Homo sapiens: one gene and its partners. The protein of the gene in region 1 interacts with the protein of each later gene in a pairwise test. Each region holds a gene or a part of one and is shown on either strand. Other genes may lie near its edges. The genes, in order: NAA10, SEMA3B, MEOX2 and KIFAP3.

Evidence for each region.
Region 2: the proteins of NAA10 (region 1) and SEMA3B interact in binary tests that used the Homo sapiens proteins (3 or more experiments, as listed by UniProt).
Region 3: the proteins of NAA10 (region 1) and MEOX2 interact in binary tests that used the Homo sapiens proteins (3 or more experiments, as listed by UniProt).
Region 4: the proteins of NAA10 (region 1) and KIFAP3 interact in binary tests that used the Homo sapiens proteins (3 or more experiments, as listed by UniProt).

What each region holds. Positions count from the first base shown.
Region 1 is NC_000023.11:153,928,685-153,932,037, forward strand, and holds the end of NAA10 (N-alpha-acetyltransferase 10), read right to left. Parts: intron 2,164-3,353; coding exon 2,079-2,163; intron 1,540-2,078; coding exon 1,303-1,539; 3' UTR 541-1,302; downstream 1-540. UniProt on the Homo sapiens protein: Catalytic subunit of N-terminal acetyltransferase complexes which display alpha (N-terminal) acetyltransferase activity. Acetylates amino termini that are devoid of initiator methionine.
Region 2 is NC_000003.12:50,272,110-50,278,049, forward strand, and holds the end of SEMA3B (semaphorin-3B isoform 1 precursor), read left to right. Parts: intron 1-1,009; exon of another isoform or gene 1,010-1,188; coding exon 1,189-1,334; intron 1,335-1,425; coding exon 1,426-1,537; intron 1,538-1,634; coding exon of another isoform or gene 1,635-1,649; coding exon 1,650-1,719; intron 1,720-1,803; coding exon 1,804-1,948; intron 1,949-2,253; coding exon 2,254-2,473; intron 2,474-2,733; coding exon 2,734-2,825; intron 2,826-2,902; coding exon 2,903-2,944; intron 2,945-3,192; coding exon 3,193-3,350; intron 3,351-3,450; coding exon 3,451-3,506; intron 3,507-3,595; coding exon 3,596-3,735; intron 3,736-4,192; coding exon 4,193-4,597; 3' UTR 4,598-5,437; downstream 5,438-5,940. UniProt on the Homo sapiens protein: Inhibits axonal extension by providing local signals to specify territories inaccessible for growing axons.
Region 3 is NC_000007.14:15,683,661-15,690,686, reverse strand, and holds the start of MEOX2 (homeobox protein MOX-2), read left to right. Parts: upstream 1-4,003; 5' UTR 4,004-4,284; coding exon 4,285-4,801; intron 4,802-7,026. UniProt on the Homo sapiens protein: Mesodermal transcription factor that plays a key role in somitogenesis and somitogenesis and limb muscle differentiation. Required during limb development for normal appendicular muscle formation and for the normal regulation of myogenic genes.
Region 4 is NC_000001.11:170,029,657-170,036,696, forward strand, and holds part of KIFAP3 (kinesin-associated protein 3), read right to left. Parts: intron 5,898-7,040; coding exon 5,798-5,897; intron 4,841-5,797; coding exon 4,716-4,840; intron 2,329-4,715; coding exon 2,230-2,328; intron 1-2,229. UniProt on the Homo sapiens protein: Involved in tethering the chromosomes to the spindle pole and in chromosome movement. Binds to the tail domain of the KIF3A/KIF3B heterodimer to form a heterotrimeric KIF3 complex and may regulate the membrane binding of this complex.

The DNA of each region.
Region 1 (3,353 bases):
AGGGACTAGGGACAGTAAATGATGGCTTTGCAGCCGGAGGGGAGGGAAGGGAAAGGAGGAAAGACACAGAAACGAGCGTTACGGTTAGGGTGACTCCATGAAAAACAGGATTTTGATATATATGTGTATATGTATATATATATGTATATATATATTTTTTTTTTTTGAGACGGGTCTCTGTCCCTGGAGTGTGGTGGCATGATCAGGGCCCACAGCAACCTCCACCTCCCGGGCTCAAGCGATCCTCCTGCTTCAGCCTCCCGAGTAGCTGGGATTACAGGCATGCACCACCACACCCGGGTAAGTTTTCTATTTTTAGTAAAGATGGGGTTTCGCCATGCTGCCCAGGCTGGTCTCCAACTCCTGAGCTCAAGTGATCCCGCCCACCTTGGCCTCCCAAAGTGCTGTGATTACAGGCATGAGCCACCGCACCCAACAGCCGCCCAGTTTTGTATTTTGCATGAAATTGTTAATGAGGGAATACATGGCTTTATGCATTTGTGTAACCCCATAGAAACTGTACAACACAGACAGGAAACCTACTGTAAACCATGGGCTGTAGTTTACAATAACTTATCAGTATTGGCGCATCAACAATAACAAATACACCAACTAATACAAAATGTCAATGGGGAAACGCGGGGAATTGTACTAAAAATAAATTATTTTCAAATGCAAACTCAGGTTAGGGAGTAGACTCAAGAGGTATCATGGACTCACTGACCATTAGGGTGGCAGGGGAGGGAGGACTCAAGGACTGTTGATGGGGCATCTGGCTGGGTCATTACTCAGACAGGACATTTGTAGATAAGCCCAATGAGCAGTTGGATGTCCACATCTGGAGCCCACGGGTATGCTGGGGAGCTGCTGTAGCCCGAAGCAGGTGTGATTAGGGAGAGAAAGTCTGAAGGTGAAGGTGGGAAGAGAACTGAAGGCCACCAAGAGTGGGAGCCCTGCTGTTGAGCTTTGAGCCTGAGCAGCCCCGGCTTGTGCCACAAAACACATTCAGCGTGGCCAAGCAGACCTCCAAGGCAGGGTCTCTCCCATAAGTCCAGGGCCTCCTTCCCCGGGGCCACAGCTGCTGAAGGTCATGAGACTAGGGAGTCCCACCTCCAAAGCTCTTTCCTTGTACTCGGGCCTGGCAGGATGCTCTGGGTCAAAAGGCCAAGGCTCACATCCCCACCAGAGGACCTGGAGAAACACACCCTCTAAATGTGCGCGCGCTCACACACAAAGTTCCCCAGTGCCACGGAGCGAATTTATTGTGAAAGCTCGTGGGGTGAGGAGGGGATGGGGCAGGCTCTAGGAGGCTGAGTCGGAGGCCTCTGAGCTGTCCTTGACATCTGTGCTCTCTGTGGTCTCGCTGACCTCGCTGAGGTCCTTGCTGTCCCCACCACTATCCTCGGCAGCCAGGCCCTTCTCCTCGCGACAGGCCTCTCCTGAGCTCGGAGGTGAATTGCCTTTGCTCTCCACCTTGTTCTCGATGGCACCCAGCACCACGTGCCTGCCCTTCTCTTTCAGCTCCAGGTGCCGCCTCAGCTGCCACCAGGAACCCAGGGAGAAGCGGGGGCAAAGAGACAGGGCCTAAGTTTCCAGACAAAGGGAGCCTGGCCCTGTCGCTGGCTGAGGAGAGGGGCATAGTGAGGCAGCAGGGCTAGGCAGGACACGCGGGACTGAGTGGGGACACCTGGCTGGAGCCCCAGTCCACCGCTACCTGGGCTTACCGACTACCATGGAGGCCCCCACGACAGAGCGCTGCCCCTTGACCAGCCCTGCCACCCGATGAGCCTTGGGCAGAACCCTGACTCAGAACTACCTTTGAGCAGGCAGGCCACCCACTGGTCCCTAGACCTCCCCACTTCCCTTCTAAAAGCCTCCTCCCTCTGCCTCTCCCATCACCCTCCAGGCTGCTAGGCAGATGGCCTCCTCTAAAGCCCAGCCTAGGAAACTGAGGTCGTGACTCCTGGCAACGTAGCCACAAGAGCTGGCATCCAAAGTCGGTCTCGCCTGCAGCCACTGTCTTGGGGCTCCTGAGTGCCGCCCCCGCTCGCCTTGCTTGGCTTCATGCAGGCGCTTACCTCGTCGGCCATCTGAGTGAGGTCCCGCTTCATGGCATAGGCGTCCTCCCCATCTGCATAGTATTTGGGCTCCACTTCACTGATCCTGGGGGCAGAGGGTTAGAGAGCAAGGAGGAAGACCTGTATCCCGGGGACACCCTCCTCCACTCCTGGTATCGTGGCTACTGGAGCAAGGTGCCATGTTTTCTCCCTGAAGGCTCCATCCTGAGACAACAAGTCCAGTGTGACCTGCCCTCTGTTCTCTCCAGCAAAGGCTCCAGGACACAGCGGCCCGCCCCACCCGTCCTGCCCCCGTTCTGTGTCCTTAGCCTGGATACTAAGGATCCATTTCTGCGGTTTCTTGTGAGCTGAAGCCCTGAATTCAGCCTTCCCCTTCCCTCCCTGCCCTGCGCCCTGTCCCTTACTGAGCTGCCTCACAACAGCCATCAGAACCCAGGAAAGACGGTGAGCCCTGCCTGAGCAGCTCTGGGGCCGTGACTACACTGGGCAGGTGTGTGTGCAGACTCGCGTGGCCATGTCCCTGGAAGGGGAGCTGGACTCAATGGCCTAGGCTGGCCCTGCCAGGCCTAAGACATGAGGATTGCTGACTTAGCTATAAAGCAATTCCCACCAGACATCGTCATCTGGGTCACAGATCCCTCTTGCCAGCATCCAGCCCAGAGGCCACCGCCCTTCCCAACAGTCCCTCTTCTTCATCCCCTACCAAACGGGCTGAGTGCAGTTAGTGTCCCTCCACAGGCAGCCCACCCCAGCTTCACTTGCAAGCACTTTTTTCCACTGTCTACTGGGCATGCCAACTGCCAGGTTCTCTCTAGTGTGCTAGGCACACGGGGCCTCCTGGTCCTCAGGCAGACCTCCCCCATCCACTAGGCTGCCTGGCCACTGGCCCTTCCTTCCTGAATGTGCATTCTCCTCGATTCTGCTCTCTCTTGGATTCTTCTAGGTGCTTGGTCATGCTTGAGTCCTGCTCCTCAGCATCTGCTCACGCCAGGGACCCACACCTCTCTATTCCCAAACATTACTAAACAGCCCGTGTGCCCTTCGCCAGCCTCAGCCATCATGGGCCAGAGCTCCTCCATCACAACACATGGAGCACGTTTCAGCAGGCAGGTGCTGTCTCCATGCCGGCTTTTCAACCATCAGCCGCCGAGTGAATGTGGAGGTATCCTGGCAGTGCTGGGGTCCACAGCCTCTTCCCCACAGCCGGCCCACCCCCGACCTGGAAGGCAACTCAGCCGGTCTCAGGTGCCCTGATGGGCCAGACCTGGGATCAAC
Region 2 (5,940 bases), on another chromosome or scaffold:
AAAATAAAATTAGCTGGGGGCAGTGGCATGCACACACCTGTAGTCCTGGCTAGTCAGGAGGCTGAGATGGAAGGATCACTTGAGCCCAGGAGTTGGAGGCTGCAGTGAGCCATGATGCTGCCACTGCAGGACAGAGCAGACCCTGTCTCTAAATCAAATAAAAATTAAATAAGGGCTATGGGCTGGTGGGCACAGTGGCTCACACCTGTAATCTCAGCACTTTGGGAGGCGGAGGCAGGCAAATCGCTTGAGGCCAGGAGTTTGAGACTAGCCTGGCCAACATGGTGAAACCCTGTCTCTACTAAAAAATACAAAAATTGGCCGGGTGCAGTGGTGTGCACCTGTAATCCCAGCACTTTGGGAGGCTGAGGCGGGCGGATCACCTGAGTTCAGGCATTTGAGACCAGCCTGGCCAACATGGTGTAACCCCGTCTCTACTAAATATACAAAAATTAGTCCGGCATGATGGTGTGCATCTGTAATCCCAGCTACTCAGGAGGCTGAGGCAGGAGAATCGCTTGAACCTAGGAGGCGGAGGTTGCAGTGAATGGAGACTGTGCCACTGCATTCCAGCCTGGGCAATAGAGCGAGACTTCGTCTCAAAAAAAAAAAAAAAAGCCAGGTGTGGTGGTAGGCTCTGACTGTAATCTCAGCTACTTGGGAGGCTGAGGTTGCAGTGAGCCGAGATCGAGCACTCCAGCCTGGGCGACAGAGCGAGACTGTCTCAAAAAATAAATAAATAAACAAATAATAATAATAATAATAATAATAAAGAGCAATGGGACCCAGCAGAAGGATTTGAAGCAGGAGTGGGGAGCATCTGGTTATGCTAGAGAGGAAGATTCATGAGTGAAGGTGAAACCAGATTACCTCATCTCCCTCCTACCCCAGCCTAAGGTGCTGGGCGACGTGTGGGGCGAGATCGGAGGCTAGCCGGGCTTCACGCCTGCGCCCCCAGGTAGCCACGGTCTCTGCTGCCCCCTCGCGGCTGCTTCTTGCCTCGCAGGCCCTGATCCTTTGGATTCGGTCCGCGCAGAGCGCCAACTGGACATGGTGCTAGAGGTTGGGTGGTCAGACACTGTGATCCCGGGTGCTGTGCCCGCACTACGGGAAGGGGAAGCAGCGCGTGGGTCTCGCATCAGGAGGCAAGGCCAGGACCCGCTGACCCATGCCTCCTGCCGCGGTCAGAGCCCAAGTTTGTCAAGGTATTTTGGATCCCGGAGAGCGAGAACCCAGACGACGACAAAATCTACTTCTTCTTTCGTGAGACGGCGGTAGAGGCGGCGCCGGCACTGGGACGCCTGTCCGTGTCCCGCGTTGGCCAGATCTGCCGGGTGAGGAGTCCCTGGGCCACACCCGGCGACCCTGCCCCTACCCCTTTGCCTGCCCTGGTCTCGCCCTCATCCCCTTTGATCGTCCCGGCAGAACGACGTGGGCGGCCAGCGCAGCCTGGTCAACAAGTGGACGACGTTCCTGAAGGCGCGGCTGGTGTGCTCGGTGCCCGGCGTCGAGGGCGACACCCACTTCGATCAGCTCCGTGAGTGCGGGAGTGGGTATGGGGTTGGGGAGGGGGGCAGCGGCGCAGACTCCGGGAGCCCCCGCCGCAGCGGGGCTGTGCGCCCTACCCCAGCTAGGCCCCTTCCCCGCAGAGGATGTGTTTCTGTTGTCCTCGCGGGACCACCGGACCCCGCTGCTCTATGCCGTCTTCTCCACGTCCAGGTGAGGGGCAGGAGGTAGGGAGCGCCCGGGGCGGGCCGCTGGGCTCCACCCGGCCCCTCACCTCGCCCTGGTCTTCGCCTCCAGCAGCATCTTCCAGGGCTCTGCGGTGTGCGTGTACAGCATGAACGACGTGCGCCGGGCCTTCTTGGGACCCTTTGCACACAAGGAGGGGCCCATGCACCAGTGGGTGTCATACCAGGGTCGCGTCCCCTACCCGCGGCCAGGCATGGTTCGTAGCCCAGGGACTTCTGCTACAACCCACTTCAAAGCCTCAAGGGTTTGAGAACTTGGCCTGGGGTCTTCTTGGTGAATGTGGTTTCTTCCTTTAGTTATGGGTGGGAAAACGTTTCCATCATAAGACAAGGCTTGTTTCCCGCCTCTGACTTCCTAGGGCAAGGCTGATCTCCTCTCTAATTCTCAGGGCAGGGTTCTGTCCCCATCCCCCTCCATGTTCCCAGAGGCTGGGCATGGAGGGCTGCCTATCAAGCCCCCATATCTATATCCCTGCTGTGCCTCCCTTTCCCCCACCCCCAGTGCCCCAGCAAGACCTTTGGCACCTTCAGTTCCACCAAGGACTTCCCAGACGATGTCATCCAGTTTGCGCGGAACCACCCCCTCATGTACAACTCTGTCCTGCCCACTGGGGGGCGCCCTCTTTTCCTACAAGTTGGAGCCAATTACACCTTCACTCAAATTGCCGCGGACCGGGTTGCAGCCGCTGACGGACACTATGACGTCCTCTTCATTGGCACAGGTCAGGGTCCCTCCACAGCGACCCCCAGGCTCCCAGCCAGGCCCTGTGGGCTGCTGATGGAAGCTCTCCCTGTTCAGTCCCATCTCCACATCCTTTCCTGGGCTGTGTCTCCACCCTGTGGATGCTGCCCAACCCACACTCTTCCAGTCCACACTCTTCACAACCCAAACATGCTGAGGGTAGACGCCTCAAAGGCGAGGAGACACTAGCCCCAGCTGTCCGGGAGCACCAATGGTCATTACCCCTTCTCATCCCTGCAGACGTTGGCACGGTGCTGAAGGTGATCTCGGTCCCCAAGGGCAGTAGGCCCAGCGCAGAGGGGCTGCTCCTGGAGGAGCTGCACGTGTTTGAGGTGAGGCCTCACCCCCAGTCGCCCGGGACCCCCCCACCCCACTAAGCCCTGACCCCGTCGCCCCTCCTCCCTCTCAGGACTCGGCCGCTGTCACCAGCATGCAAATTTCTTCCAAGAGGGTGAGTGACCAGGATGGGGGTCGGGGTGGGATGGACTGAGCTTGTGCCTGGCGCGTCCCAAGCCTCTGGCCCCTTTTGGTAGTTTGCAGTCCCGGGTTTGAGTACAGGCTCTGGCTTTGTTAGACTGTGTGACCTGAGGCGTAAGACCTCAGTGTTCCCATCTGTCGAGTGGAAGAAGGGATCCCTGACCGATGGGAGGCAGGCGTGGGGTCGCCCTCGGTCAGCCCAGAGCCCCTCGTGCCCCCTAGCACCAGCTGTACGTAGCCTCGCGGAGCGCGGTGGCCCAGATCGCGTTGCACCGCTGCGCTGCCCACGGCCGCGTCTGCACCGAATGCTGTCTGGCGCGTGACCCCTACTGCGCCTGGGACGGGGTCGCGTGCACGCGCTTCCAGCCCAGTGCCAAGAGGTGGGCGGGGTCGGGGTTGGGCCGCCGGGAGGGAGGCGAAGGGTCTTTCACTGCCCGGGGCTGAAAGAAGGGCTCACAGAAGATCGGATGTTCCCCACAGGCGGTTCCGGCGGCAAGACGTAAGGAATGGCGACCCCAGCACGTTGTGCTCCGGAGGTGAGTGCCCCAGCTGCCCCTACCCTCAGCCCCAGAAGACGCCCCACCTGCCCTGCCTTGCCTAAATCTGACTTTCTTCTCGCCCCAAGACTCGTCTCGTCCCGCGCTGCTGGAACACAAGGTGTTCGGCGTGGAGGGCAGCAGCGCCTTTCTGGAGTGTGAGCCCCGCTCGCTGCAGGCGCGCGTGGAGTGGACTTTCCAGCGCGCAGGGGTGACAGCCCACACCCAGGTGAGCCTTACTCCGCCCTCCCCGCCAGGCTCCTGTCCCACCCCCTGCATCCAGGAGAGGCCCCGCCCTACCCAACGAAGCCCCGTCCAACCAGACCCACTCCCCGCCCTGTCCAGTTTGGTCCCTCACCTGCACTCCACAAGCTGCTGAGGCCCCATTGCGTCCAACGGGGCTCCCGACCCGCCTCCCCTGAATCAAGGAGAAGACCCGCCCTCGACCCTCCCATTAAGGTCCCTGACCACCCCCCACCAAGTTCATGTAAACCCCGCCTCTTTCGGATTCTCCCTTGAAGACCACCAGCTCCCAAACACTCAGCCTTAAAATGTGCGCCTGCGGGCACCCCTTTCCCGCTCCACCTCGGCTCCCAATGACTCTTTGCTTCTTCCGTCGCGTGCTAGGGCCCGGAAGCCCTGTTCCCGGCCCGACACCCCCGCCTCACGCTGCCCTCTGCCCGCAGGTGCTGGCAGAGGAGCGCACCGAGCGCACCGCCCGGGGACTACTGCTGCGCAGGCTGCGGCGCCGGGACTCGGGCGTGTACTTGTGCGCCGCCGTCGAGCAGGGCTTTACGCAACCGCTGCGTCGCCTGTCGCTGCACGTGTTGAGTGCTACGCAGGCCGAACGACTGGCGCGGGCCGAGGAGGCTGCGCCCGCCGCGCCGCCGGGCCCCAAACTCTGGTACCGGGACTTTCTGCAGCTGGTGGAGCCGGGCGGAGGTGGCAGCGCGAACTCCCTGCGCATGTGCCGCCCGCAGCCTGCGCTGCAGTCACTGCCCCTGGAGTCGCGGAGAAAGGGCCGTAACCGGAGGACCCACGCCCCTGAGCCTCGCGCTGAGCGGGGGCCGCGCAGCGCAACGCACTGGTGACCAGACTGTCCCCACGCCGGGAACCAAGCAGGAGACGACAGGCGAGAGAGGAGCCAGACAGACCCTGAAAAGAAGGACGGGTTGGGGCCGGGCACATTGGGGGTCACCGGCCGATGGAGACACCAACCGACAGGCCCTGGCTGAGGGCAGCTGCGCGGGCTTATTTATTAACAGGATAACCCTTGAATGTAGCAGCCCCGGGAGGGCGGCACAGGTCGGGCGCAGGATTCAGCCGGAGGGAAGGGACGGGGAAGCCGAGCTCCAGAGCAACGACCAGGGCCGAGGAGGTGCCTGGAGTGCCCACCCTGGGAGACAGACCCCACCTCCTTGGGTAGTGAGCAGTGAGCAGAAAGCTGTGAACAGGCTGGGCTGCTGGAGGTGGGGCGAGGCAGGCCGACTGTACTAAAGTAACGCAATAAACGCATTATCAGCCAAAGCTGGAATGGCCCCAGCAGAAAACCCCAGTCCTCGGCCTTGCTATGTGGTCTTGGGCACCTTACTAGCGGTGTCAGGGCCCGAGTTTCTCCTGTCCAAGGTTGCCTGGTGAGGATTAAAGGTGGTTCCGGCCAGGCGCGGTGGCTCACGCCTGTAATCCCAACACTTTCGGAGGCCCAGGCGGACGGATCACGAGGTCAGGAGATGGAAACCATCCCGGCTAACACGGTGAAACCCCGTCTGTACTAAAAATACAAAAAATTAGTCGGGCGTGGTGGCGGGCGCCTGTAATCCTAGCTACTCAGGAGGCTGAGGCAGGAGAATTGCTTGAACCTGGGAGGTGGAGGTTGCAATGAGCCTAGATCTCGCCGCTGCACTCCAGCCTGGGCGACAGAGCGAGACTCCAAAAAAAAAAAAAAAAAAAAAAAAAAAGGTGGTTCCGCGTGACTGAACAGGTTCTGTAGGGCCTTTGGGAATAGTGACACGCAGGGTACATTGTGCATAATATAACTTCAGGACTAAGTGCTAGGAAGAAAATAAAACTGGACCGGGCGCAGTGGCTCACGCCTGTAATCCCAGCATTTTGGGAGGCCGAAGCAGTCGGATCATGAAGTCAGGAGTTCAAGACCAGCCTGACCAACATGGTGAAACCCTGTCTCTACTAAAAATACAAAACTTAGGTGGGTGTGATGGCACGCGCCTTTAATCCCAGCTACTCAGGAGGCTGAGGTAAGATAATTGCTTGAACCAGGGAGGCAGAGGTTGCAGTGAGCCGAGATCGCCCCACTGCACTCCAGCCTGGGCAACAGAGCGAGACTCTGTCTCAAAGAAAAGAAAACTGGGTGATGTGGAAAAGAATGTACACAGAAGGCCTCACTGAAGGGGTGGCATTTGAGTTCGCTGACAAG
Region 3 (7,026 bases), on another chromosome or scaffold:
AGTATTCATTTCTTTTGGTACATGTAAAATGAATGTAACAATTTTTACTGTGAATGTACCAATTAATGTTATATAAAAATAATAACATTTTAAAAATGTGTAAAAGTATACAGAATCACTAAATAACATGCATTAGCCATAGCAAAATTGTTCCATAAACTTTATAATGCATAGTTCCTGGGGAGAATCAGTTCCTTAGTTTTATAAAATAATGTACATCATAAATCACATAAATTACCATTGGGTATTTAGCATATTTGGATACATTTTCAAAATTCTTTATTTCAGAAGAACCAACTGAAGGACATAACTGCTACTTTTTGGCAAAATATAGCAGAAATAATATTTCTATACCCAATAAAGTTTTCAGAAACAAATTACAACATTAATTTAATTATCCACCCTTTAGTTCATATATTATGAGTATATGTTACCAAGGAAAATTTATCTATTAGGTAAAATTCAAAGTAGAGTTTCCTATTTAATTTTAAATATTTGAAGTTCCATGACAACTCATGTCACACGTGTGCAGAAGAATGGCAACTTTTAAAAGAATCGTTGTGAATCTTAAAGTAAAATTTAAATACAATTTTGTTGTATTGCTTAATATGAGCTCTAGTCCCCTTAAAATAAAATAGTCCTAATAAAAAGAAATCTCTGCCTTTACTCTTGAATGTCATTTTATTTAAGCCGAGGAAACAATAGATATACACACTTATCAAGTTTAAAGAACCTAGCCTACGTTTAAAATAATTATAGCTGTGGACCCTGCAAGAGCTAAGTAGCTTACCTTTTCACAGAATCAACCTCTTTATAATGTGTTACTTGATATTGAAACCTTACATGAAATGTTGGCATTAATATAACTTATCTTCAGGAAAACTCAAGTATATTATAAATGTAGGATAAATACTATATCATACATAGTTGTAAATGATTGTTATATAGAAATTTTATAATAAATTTTATAATTTTTACCATTCTTCTTGATATCATTAGGTAAAAAGGCATCTTTTCAATATTGGATTTTATGGATGTGAACACTGAAGTAGCTATTATAGGAAATGCTAGGGATTTTTTTCCCGTTGTTACTACATTTTAAAAATTTCTCTATAACCTAGAACATAAAATTCAATATTCTATCTTATTCCAAATATTCTAATAAAATTTAAAAATCTTTATGTAATGATTAATACATATTTAGAAATCCAGAGAAAATTAAAGTTATATTTAATTCTGGAATTCACCAAGACGTCCTTTTTAGTCCTTCATTTTTTCCTTCCAAATATTTTCCTTATATTCTGTTTTCTATAAGAAAACTGGACATCATAATTTTTGCTGATATTAAATGTTCTGTGTCTTCAATTAAAAAGACCTTTCTTGCTAGCTTTGTTTTCATTGCATGCCTTTGGAATGACTTCCTCCTTTTCTAACCTTTCTTAAATTTTTCTTCCCAGGTTTCTGGCCCCACAGTTCTAGAGGCTGACTGACTGGGGCAGGTTGTAGAGAAACTTCTGGACAGGTTGTTAACATCTGACACAGTGAGTGAGAAAAAATCCAGCACAGTCACTGGGCAGGTTTAAGAAGAAGTGGCAGCCTCGGGAGATGAAAGGTTTGTGTGTGCTTGTTGCTGGTTACCTGCAACACACTGGTTAAATTCAAATCCATTCATTTAGTAATTGCTTAGCTTCCTCTAAACCAATGTAATGCAAACCAAAAGGACCGTTGTGGATGTTTTGTACTGATGTCTGCAGATCATGAGTAATTTTAGTCTGTCTTGTCTGACATTTTCCACAATGCTTTTAGTTGACAGCATTATATTATGTAAATATTTCTGGTTAGGTTTATTGAGGTGGTTGCCTAAATCTCACTTTAAATAAAGCCTTTAATGCTTTCACCCAGAATCCATAGAGAAGCTACATGAGTTGGGGAAGTTTAGTGTTGCTCTTTGTACTTTAACTTTTAATATCAGAGCACATATTGAAACCATAAACACAATGAAAATACAAAAAAATATTCCGACGATATTGGAGGACTATAACTCCCCCACCTCTTTTTATTCTTAAAGAGCCAAGGGCGTGGGGAGTGGCAGGAAGAGATATTCTCAAGATCTAAGTCCTGGACGCCATCCTGCGAGTGCTTAAAGCCCCTAGAAACGTGCAACCTGAACAACACCCCTTTTCGAAGTCTAAAACAATATTAGATTCCCAAAATATCGGCAAAGAAAGTCTTACCGTCAGACTTGCAGCAGGTTTCAGCTCAGACCCAGACTGAAAAGCTGAGCAGCTGGTGAACAAAAGATTTAGTTTTTTTTTTTTTTTAAACGAAGTCTGCAAAACTAATTTCCCTCAAAATAGAGCTCAATTTCCGTTAAAGAAAGCAGCGCTTACAAATCTCAGAATTCCTGATCAACCCCCACTCCACCCCACCTCTGAGCAATAGAAAACAATTCGATCTTTCACACGGATGTTATTGCGAAGCCACTATTCTGCAGTGTGACTTAAAAGAAAAGAAGATAGTGAGGCTTAAGCAAGGGGACTGGAAGAGGAGGGGAAAGGTTCTGCTTTGGGGACACCTCTCAAAGATTAATCAATGCTTTTTCCTAATTCAAACCAGATGTCTAGCCCAGTTTGCTGTACCCATTAATCCCACTAACAACTTCAAAGACCTGGTCATCATCCTCTGGACACCTGAGACAATGAAAAAACGGGGCGACACTGCTGGTGGCGCATTTGGGGCCCCGGGCAGAATAGGTGACTACAGATATTCTCCTGATGCGACAGGTCGCAGATGGGACATGACTGTTCCTCCTGCTCATTACAGCGCCACTCACTTGTGTGTAAACGACTCTGCCCCCAGCGGACCCTGTCGCCCGCCAAGCAAGTAGCAGCTTCAAAGCCCTGCCCTCGCTCTCGCATGCTTACTAGAGGCGAGTTTTCTATTTTATTTTCAGGGGTGCAAAATTGTAACCAAGTGCCCACGGTGAGTGAATTTTGGGAGCTATCGAAATGTAAGAATTCTCAGTAAATGGAACCCTGGTGGTAAGGAATGCATTAGCGGATTTATTTTTGAGCAGAAGAGAGTGGATTTCTGGAGGAAACCGAGGAGATCTGGGCTAGCTCCTGAGGGGAAAGGCTAGAAATGCGCGTGCAATCTACACATCTCATATGACCGGGACACAATCGCTTGGAAATATTCTTGACCCAGGAAAAGTTCTTCTTGGTGGACAAGTGGCTAGGAAATTGAGCGGGACCGGGAAAGAGGGGGAAGGGAGCCTCCACCTGGCATCGCACGTGAGGATGCCAGGGAGCAGGCATCTGCAACCCTTTCAGACTCACGCCTTCCTCCCACCCACCCAACCAGGTCCGTCTTCTTTCTGCACTGAGAACCGCCTTTTCCAGGCCATGGTGCTCATCCCCGCAACCTCAGATCTGGCGTCCCAGCCTATTAACAACCCACCGACAGAAACCAGCTGCGAAAACCTAGGCGCGCTGCGGCGCCCGGGGCACGGGAAGATGCAAAGTTTGAAAAACTTCGAGGGTGCGCCAAACTAGCTCTGGTCTTTTCCTTTAACCCTATTACTTCTTTCGTGTTCCTGAAAGGATAGGCGTATCCCTAGCTTTTCTGCAGGTGACAGTTCCCAAATGACACTGACAAGTCACGTTTCCCCGAGAGGAAAGTGAGTAGGTAGGAATCAGGGTGCTAGGTTGGGGGTGGTGTGCGCCGCGCCCAGGCCTCCAGAGTCTGGAGGGCAGAGCTGCTGCCCTCCCGGGCGGGACTTAGACGTTGGCGTGCCGCTTGTAGTCCTGGCAGCCGGCAGTGCTGGGCGGGCGTGGACGCTCTACGTCCGTCCAGCAGGAGATAGGAAGTGGAACTGGGAGCGCGTGGCGCAGGCTGAGCGGGAGTTTTGGAGGGAGTTTGCATGTGGTCAACTCTGGGCTCCTAAGCCAGCCCCCAGCTCACGTTACACTCTATTTATAACTTCTCAGAGCCATTTCCCCCTGAAAGCAGTTCTCTGGGACCACCTTCTTTTGGCTTCAACCTCTCCCACTCTTGACATCTGAGTAGCTCAGGGAAGCTCTTCCAGGTCCGACTGTTCATATGTAAAGGAGACTGGCCGCTGGGGCTCAGGACCGGGATTATCCGAGCTCTGCAGAAGTGCACCGCTATTGCTTTGGGAGGTTAAAAAAAAAATCACACGGTTTCCAGTGAAAAAGTGACAGAGGGTGGTGGCCTTTGGAACCGCCGTGAAGTCTTCTGCCTGGAACCCGAAACTTGCATGCTATGGAACACCCGCTCTTTGGCTGCCTGCGCAGCCCTCACGCCACGGCGCAAGGCTTGCACCCGTTCTCCCAATCCTCTCTCGCCCTCCATGGAAGATCTGACCATATGTCTTACCCCGAGCTCTCTACTTCTTCCTCATCTTGCATAATCGCGGGATACCCCAACGAAGAGGGCATGTTTGCCAGCCAGCATCACAGGGGGCACCACCACCACCACCACCACCACCACCATCACCACCATCAGCAGCAGCAGCACCAGGCTCTGCAAACCAACTGGCACCTCCCGCAGATGTCTTCCCCACCGAGTGCGGCTCGGCACAGCCTCTGCCTCCAGCCCGACTCTGGAGGGCCCCCAGAGTTGGGGAGCAGCCCGCCCGTCCTGTGCTCCAACTCTTCCAGCTTGGGCTCCAGCACCCCGACTGGGGCCGCGTGCGCGCCGGGGGACTACGGCCGCCAGGCACTGTCACCTGCGGAGGCGGAGAAGCGAAGCGGCGGCAAGAGGAAAAGCGACAGCTCAGGTAAGGGCGCGCCAGGCACCCTCGAGAGTGCGCGCCGGGCTGGAAAAGGGGCGGAGAGATACTAGGGGAGATTCTCGCACTGGAGGGTGGCAGCAGGGAAGATGGGAATGTGTTGCCCTCTGTGGCTTCCTGCGGCCAAATTCGGCGGTGAAGCTTTGGTCCTGATATTTGGGGACACGTGTTTATTCGAGAGCAATGCGTATACAGCCAGCAGCTCTAAGCCCTCCAAAGTCCTAAACTAGTTTACCAGAAGGTTGATAAAAAAGGACAAGTGGCTGTGAAATCGATTGTGAAGCGTGACCTTCCATCCCAGCGCTGGGGAGGGAGGGGCGTGCGCCCAGGGATGCAGCGTCCGTTGGGCAGGCGTGCGTGCGGGTGCCGCTTCTTGACTTTTCTCTTGCAAGTTGCCGACTCTGAGTGGCTCGATTTTTCCCATCGTTAACTGGATTTCCAAATTATTGCACAATGTTTGGAACTTGCAATGGAACTTGGCAGAGCGCATGAGAAAAAAAAGTTTCAGTTTTTTTTTTTTAACATTCTTATTTCAGCGTTCTTTAAATAGCACCCTATTTCAAATGGTAAAATTTTCCCTTTATTGGGGAAGAAGACATTATCTAGGAATTCAGATTTTAAGGAATGTGTCAGAGAATTGTAAATAAATAGATGCTCACACTGGAAGAAAGACGAACCTTAATAGTACATGTCCATGTGGTGTAAGCTAATTACAGAACCTAAGTTTCAAAAGTGGAAAATAAATCCCTCTACCAAGTGGGTATTAGTAGAGACAAATACTGCGAAGCAACAGCAACTCGGGTACTGTTAGTTAGATACGTGTCTAAAGGGGTATGCAAGGGTGCGCGCAGGAGGCGCTGATTTCAGTGGGGATAATTTGAGCAGCCATGCAAAAGGGGAACCTTCCTGACCTCTGGTGCTTGAAGGCACAACGTGCCGAATAAATTGTAGCAATCCAGAGAAACTCAAAGTTTCCAGACAAGTTTTCAAAGCTCTTACCTACCTGTATTTTTATAAAATTGTTAAAAGATACTTTAAAATTAAGAGACTTGTGAGTTTTCTTTCGTGGGTATAGTGCAACCTGGATTAAATACTTTTGGAAGGTGTCATTTGTTTAATATAATATTTGCATATTTTTCTTCCTCTGTGGAATTGGGTTAATAATAGTCCTAGAAGGTAATCCCATATGTTGGTTTGAAGGATTGGAAAAATGTTGATCGTGTGTAAAGCTTTAGGTAAGATGCCACATAAATGAAAATGATTGGCCGCATATTTAATATTCCTTCACCATTCACAGCAATATCAATTGTTCTTCAGCGTTACTATAGGATGGATTCTTCTCTCACGGTCTCAAAAGCTAACTTTTATTTTCCAAGGTCAGGGGGTGAACTTTTAATGTTCCATCACAAATTAGTTTTTATAAGAAAATTACCAGTAGTGTCACTGATATTTAATGTATTTTCCTAACTATAAGTGAAACTCTCTTTAGATAGTGAGTTGAAAGGTTAATCATAGCAAAAAGGTTTCAATTTTTATTAGAAAAACAGTCGATTTTAGAATGCAGTGACAATTTCATAAACTGAACATTTGATATCAGTGTAACTTTGGAAGCAGATCCCAGTTCGGGTTGATGAGCGTACTCTTGCAATTCCCATAAGCTCTTACGGTTCATTTTATTTCTTGCAATGAGAAACCTACATGATAGATTGTTCTTCATGCTTCCTGAACTGAGCCATTGCCCTTAAGTTTCTCAGGGCAAACAATTTTCATACAAGCACATGTTATTTTGTTTGGGGAAAACTGAGAAAACGGAATTCAATAACTGATTCCCTTAATTTATTTTAATAATTTTTTTAAAAAATGGAATAATTTAACAAAACTAATTTATCTCTCCCCCCCAACTTAGTGGGAAATAACCATTTAACAAAATTAAATTCATTTCTACATTTTGAAGCTGATAATGAGGGTACTGGAAAAACAAGCAAATATAAGTGTTTGTGTCAGCTACATAAATTATTAACAGATTAAAACTTCAGTGGAAAGTACAATTAGTCATCACCAAGGATAAAAATACTGGGGATTTAGAATGAGCTTTTCTTTCCTTTGATATGTTGAAGAAATATTGACTAAAAGGAAAATCACAATAGTTTCTGTTTAAATCTATGTACACTTATTGAAAATAAAATTTTATTTGCCAATTTCAGCTGAAGGTA
Region 4 (7,040 bases), on another chromosome or scaffold:
AATTATAAAGATCAAAGTAGAAATCAATGGAATAAAAAATTGGTAGGGCTAAAAGCACCCAATATCAACATTTTCCATAAGCTATGGTAATGAAGACACTGTGCTATTGGCATCAAAAACACACAAAAGTGATGGATAGAACAAAATAGAAACCCAAAAATAGGCATGACACATTGGACAAATGGTTCTGACAAAGATATAAATCAATTCAGTAGATAAAAGATAGTGTTTTCAAAAGTAGTACTTAAATAATTAGCTATTTATATGCAAAAAGAATGAAGAACTTTGATCCATTCCTCACCCCATATACAAAAATTAACTCAAAATATATTATAGCCTTAACTAAACTCTGAGACTATACAACTTCTAGAAGAAAACATATTAGAAAATAATTGTAACCTTTAGTTAGGAAAGGATTTCTTAGACACAATACCAAAACCATGATCCAAAAAACACTAAGTTGGAATTCATAAAAATGTAAAATTCTGCTCTTAAAAAGATACTTTAGGAGAACAAAAATTTCTGCAAATCATGTATCTGATAAATGCTTATATCCAAAACATATAAAGAATGGATACAAAACTATCCAATTTAATAATAAGGCAAAAGTTATGAAGGCACACTTCAATAAACATAAAGAGATGGCAGATAAGCACATCAGGAGATGCTCAACATTAATCAGTCACTAGGGAAATTCAAATCAAAACCACATACATTCATGGTGAGAATATAAAAACAACTATTATAGAAAAACATTTGGCAGTTTCTTACAAAGTTAAACATACACCTATCCTATGACTCAGCCATTCCATCATTAGGTATTTAACTAAGAGAAAAGAAAGCGTATGTCCATACAAAGACTTGTAGAAAAATGTTCACAGCAGCATTAAAATTGCCAAAAACTGGAAATATTCTAATGATCATCAACAGGTGAATATAAGGAAATACTATTCAATAACAAAAAGGAATAAACTATTGATAAATGCAATAATATGGATGAATCTTTAATTATGCTGAGTAAAAGACAAAAATGCATACATACTATATGATTTCATTTATATAAAACTCTAGAAAATGCAAACTAAGCTAAAGTGACAGAAAGCAGATCAGTGATGACTTGGGAATGAGGAAGAAGGCAGAAGGAAGAAGGAAAGGGAGAGATTGTAAAGATGCATGAGGAAATTTTGGGAGTGATGGATATGTACCTTATCTTGATTATGGTCATTATTTCATGGGTATTTACATATGTTAAAATTTATCAAATTATATACTTTAAAACTATACAGTTTATTGTCTATCAGTTATACCTCAATAAAGCTGTTAAGAGAGTATACAATATTTGCATAAATATTTGGTTAGAAACAGAGCTTAAAGTTTTGCATGTTAAAAAAGTCAAATTAGTTCTTTGAAACTTTTACATGAAAACAATTGCTTTCTTGAGATCTGATGCATTTTGGATTATATGCTAACACAGATAATACCTATTATTTTCTAGCATATTTTAAAATGAACCTTTGAAAATCTGACATTTTCTCCAACAGGTTGAACTAAATTACTTGGCTTCAAATATTTAAAAAACTCAGTGTAGTTAAAATTGCTACTAATCTTCACAGGATGAAAATATTTTGGGAGTTAACAAGTATTTCCATGTACAAAGTTAGTCAAACACCAATAAACTACATGAATCATCAAATAGTCAAGTATAAATCCGGACTTAAATTCACACTTAAAAGCCCCATGTCATTATCACTAACCACCATAAGATTTTACATCTTATCAGTAACCAAGAAACCATACTATTGAAGTTTTAAATATCTTAATAAAGCTAGAGACAAGGAATTCTTTTCTATTAAACAAGAGAAATATTTTAAAATGTTTATATCAATTTCCTAGGAAAGCAACAAAATAATTCACTTTATAAAACAAGTAAGTTAGGGCTGAAGAGACAAAGATTGATATTATTGAAAAGGTCACACACTGGATTAAAAAATCCTTTCTTAGGAAATAAATAATAAGTATACAAACATTTAGGAACTAAATGGGGAAAAATAGTAGAGTGAAATTTAAAACATTACCCATGCTAAAGACAGACGAACTTGTAGCATATTAACATTTATAGAACTTTCAGCTATTCTCACATTAGCTTTACAGGTATGATAAAAAGTGAACAAAACAAATGTATTTGGAGTAAGTACTTTGTTGCTTTCCTCATTGCTTAGGAATTCATACCTCGTAATAGCTGTTCCTGTTTTACCACAAGCCCCTGGTACTTTTTAAAGGTTTTTTCATAATCCTTTCTCAAGGTTTGGTTTTCAGGGTCTTCATCAAGTAAACAACTTGTTAAGGATCATCCATACTCATTGAAGCAAAAAAAATCTACTGATAAATTCTATGAACAATGGCACTATTAAATTTTATGTGCAACTTTATCCAGTTATTTTTCTCACCAAAAGTTTAACTAAAATGTTATCTGCATAATAACTGTGCTGTAACAGCACTTCTTATTTAAGTGCTCATGGATTCCCTGGGAGTCTTTGGGTGAACAAACTTTTTTATGTAGCCCACAGCTAACATCATATAGATATTTGAACCTCACCAAATACTTGAATTCCCAGAAACTATATGTGAATATTTTATATAGGTGCACAAGTCTATAACTTTCAACAGATTATCAAGTGGGTCCACGAACCAAAAAAATTACTGCCTCAGAAAGTGATTTAGTTACTAAGAACACTGGATTTTACTTCAGACAGATGCCCAGAATATTCAAAGGATATAGATTAAATCTAAAGCTTTTGTAGCAGCCTTTTCAGACTAGAGATGCCAAGAAAGAACTAACCCAAACTTAAAGGTAAACAAATTTTAAAAATCACATCTTCTGGTCCCAAATCGTCCTCTGGACTTCTTGCAAAAATAATCAGTTACTTCAGTATCCCCAAGCATATGAGTCAAGCATATGACCCCAGAATATGAGTCAATGCAGCTGACCTTGTTGAATACCACTTGTATCAAAATACAAAGAAATTTAGGACATAATAAAATAGCAACATGTCAGGAGAAATGACCAGAATTCTGATGTCATTTTTATATCCCTTCAATTACCATAATCTGTTGAGTCTAAGATACATTTTCCTCACATCTTAACATCTCCAAAACTGGATGTGTCTTATAATCCCTGATGTGTCATAGTTTAATTGAAAGCATATGTTCCTCTCCTCGCACTTAAACAATAGTGAATCTTAAAATTAATGGTGTCTGATACAGAAATACAATATGTCCTAAGATATCAGTTCTTGTCACCAAACAATAACAAAATGCAAATTCATGATTGCTAAAGAGTTCCACTAGTGGTTCCCTCCATACTTCTCCAGTTTAAATAAATTTTGGGTACCACTGAAGCATTCAGGAGTCTTGTGACTCCAGAACTGATGTAAAGTCTCTAGGATTCTTGGGTTGTTGATGTAGTTGAGTCACTATCAATCTAGATGCCAGAAGTTTATGGTATGCATAGAAAATTTATAAACCTGAAAAGATTCTAATTAAGAAAAGTCAAAGCTTGTGTGTGGGTGTGGATTTTATAGTGTCTTGGAGTTCCATGTGACAACAGTAAAAGCCTGAGAGATTTTGTACACAATAACCTGAATTAACCTGTTACAACATAGATTAAATTGAAGCCTCAGGGTTTCCAGAGGCCAAAATTAATATAAAAGTAAGGTCCACTTTTGCACAAAGCAGAGTTAAAAATGTATGATATTCTGCAAAATAGGAATAAAGTTTTCACTTTTTAAAAGACATAATAAACACTTGATTCAAAGGAAAGTTACCAGCATGCCTAGTTGATCTGCAAAACATATCATGGTTGAACAGATATGAATAAACCAGGGGCCTTTGATCTAGAAGCATTGAGTTTAGAGGCTAAAATATGATAAATATCTTCAAATATGAGAAGAATTATGATGTTGAAGAGAATAGCCTTATTCCATATTGCTTTAGTATACAATACTAGAACCAATGGATAGAAGTTATTGGGGAATGGACTTCAGTGCACTAAGCAAAAGACTATTATAATAAACAGAATGCTAAACCACAGAATGGGTGAAATAAATAAACACTGACATTGTTAAAGAGGAGCCTATGTAATAGCATTTGCCAGGGAAGTTGCAGAAATATTTTTATATTTGTAAGATAGGTTAAAACAGATACCTAAGTTTCCTTTCACAGGTTCTATTATTCTATAGGCCTTTCAAATTTTTATTTATTAACAACAGTATTTTTGCACTTTCCTAGAAAAATAGAACCTTTAACTAGGTTCATCACCAAATTTACACCCATTCTAATCAAAGTCACCTTAGTACTCACACAGAAGTATATAAGCAGCAGTGGTGGGCCAGGCTTCAACTAACCAAAGGATCTTAGTGGATGTAATGATGTAACCACTTAGAGGCTCACCTACTAAGTTACCCGACACAACTATTACCTGCTCCTTCTACCTCATTAACTAATAAAGGTTGTGAAGAGACAAAAAGTGAATATCAAACTGTATTCATTTTGATAGTTTCAATCTACTTCTTAACCTTCAATAACACACTCCTGCATTGTTTCCAAGTAATGTAATTAACAATTTTTAAAAAAGAAAAAAGAACAAAACCATCCCACCCATCCAAAACTTAAAGCAAAAGACAACAGACGGTTCAAATGCCACTCTAAAAGGATATCAGCTTTCTTCTTCTTTGAGAGTTCTTCTTGCCAAAGCTCATGTCTTTTTAACTCATGATCAATAATATTCATACACAGAGCTCCAATTTTATAGTGAGTAATAAGTCCATGAAATTGAGAAAAGCTTTAAAGAAGACATTTTAATATATATTTAAAAGAATACATTTTATGGGTACAGGAAATTTGTTTTTGGTGATCACTGGTACGAACCATGTAGAAAATAAATTTGATATACATATTTTAATAAATGAATATATCCACAATACACTAGGAAGACTTGCGATTATAAAATTACTTTAAATATATCACACTACTCTTACCTAAAATAGTTATTTTTAAGAAGTTAGAAAGTAGACATTTTTTGTAACTAACCACCATATTAACTACTCAGATATTCAGAATAGATTTTTAGATTATTGTCTAACAAAACTAATAATGTAGCAATACTAGACATACATTTTATTTATTGTATAAAACTGACATCAGAGAATTCGTAAAGTACTAGTAATCAGGTTTTACATATGTTTTCTAGACAATACATTAATCCAAGTATTTATTCAATAAATATTTATTTGCTAATACTAGCACATTTTTAGAACAGAAGCAGCAATTATCTAGGAATTGGGTAGAAACTTTTCATAATGTCTTAATAAGTATCTTCTTTCTTAAGGATATATGTGTATAAATAATAAATACAATACATAACAGGTATGTGTTTGTACATACATGCATATATATAACAATAACATTTACTGAGCACTTACTCTGGGTCAGGCTTTATTCTAAGTATTTTAATTTTTAATTCATTTAATCCAAAAAACTATCCAAAGAGGGTGCCACTATTACTATCCAAATTTTACTCATAAGGAAACTGAGGCATGAGTGGGTATAGACTAAATGAAAGATAGAATAACAGATAGCAAGACAGACAATGGAAAACAGGAATAAGAATTCAGCAGTAGAGCATAGGCAGACACACAGAAAAACTGAGAGAACAAGTGATCTACAAATTGAATCAATGACACAGACAAAGAGCAATAGAGATACAGTAGCCTTTTTATTTAATAATTTTTATACTTACCTGGAGAAACAAAAAAAGATGTAAATTATGTTTGTAGCTAACTCGACACTTTGCTTCCAGTCTTCTCTCAGGACCCTTGCTAATGCACCAAGGGCAGTTTCTAAAGAAAAAGGAGAGGTACCGAAACGATCATTCTCCTTGCTCTGGTATAAAGGGTGATTGGTTTTAAATGTCTAGTTATTAATGAATAATAAAGCTAAGATAGAACTGGGACAAAAAGTAGGATGCTTCTTTCCAATACAGACAGCTACTTTTAAAACTAAAATGTAATTTTACTTAAAGATACGTAACATGCTGCTTCAAGTATATACTATACACAGAAGTAATCAAATATGATTTAGATAAAGTGACATATGTTATGGTGACAATAAAATAATTAAAAAGCCTTTCATTTCTTAATTTAATAACCTTAAATTAAGAACTGTAATCTTCCTACTTCAGTACTGATTTTTTTCTTTTTAACATCTGATTTAATGTATTTGATAATATGAAAAAAACTTGAATAAGTCTAGAAAAAAATGAGCAGGTTAGTAGACTAACACTCGTTCCATTAAAGCAAATTAAAAACCAAATAAAATCTATACACAGAAAAATAAATTTAATATTTCAGTATCACACTGAATTTATGCTAGTAGCCACAAATAAAACAAAAAGCTTTCACAAAATTAACTTTCAGGTAGGTTAATAAGCATTTCTGCTAAAATTTTCTCTTGAGGAAATGAAAATTATAAAGTAATGACACTAGTTTCAAATCAGGTTGGTACATGGCATACTAATTCTTAAAATAATTAAAATATCTGTATGTTAAAATATAGAAATCATAATTCCACTGTTCTTAATAGATACTCAGGATTTACAATAGTACTTTATGGACTGCATTATGAGTATTTATTATGGTAATGAAAATGTCCCATATTTGAGCTTTCTGGCTATTCAGACTATGAACAAAAATTGATTGTATTAGTTATGAATCCACGTAGTGACAAATTTTTTAGCAAATTAAAAATCATCCTATGATAGCATTTCACAGTATTATTCACATTCACAATGCAGAGAACTTGAATAGTACATGCTTTGAAAAAAATTATTTTGGAGTCACATAAATAGGTTGACAATGCATATTAACAGCAAAGCCTCCAAAAAGTCCTATTTAATAAATAATCTGGTGTAGCTTTGTTCAATCTAGTAATTCCCAAAGGTATTTGACCATTATAATCCAGATAAAATAGTATTTCTTTAAATA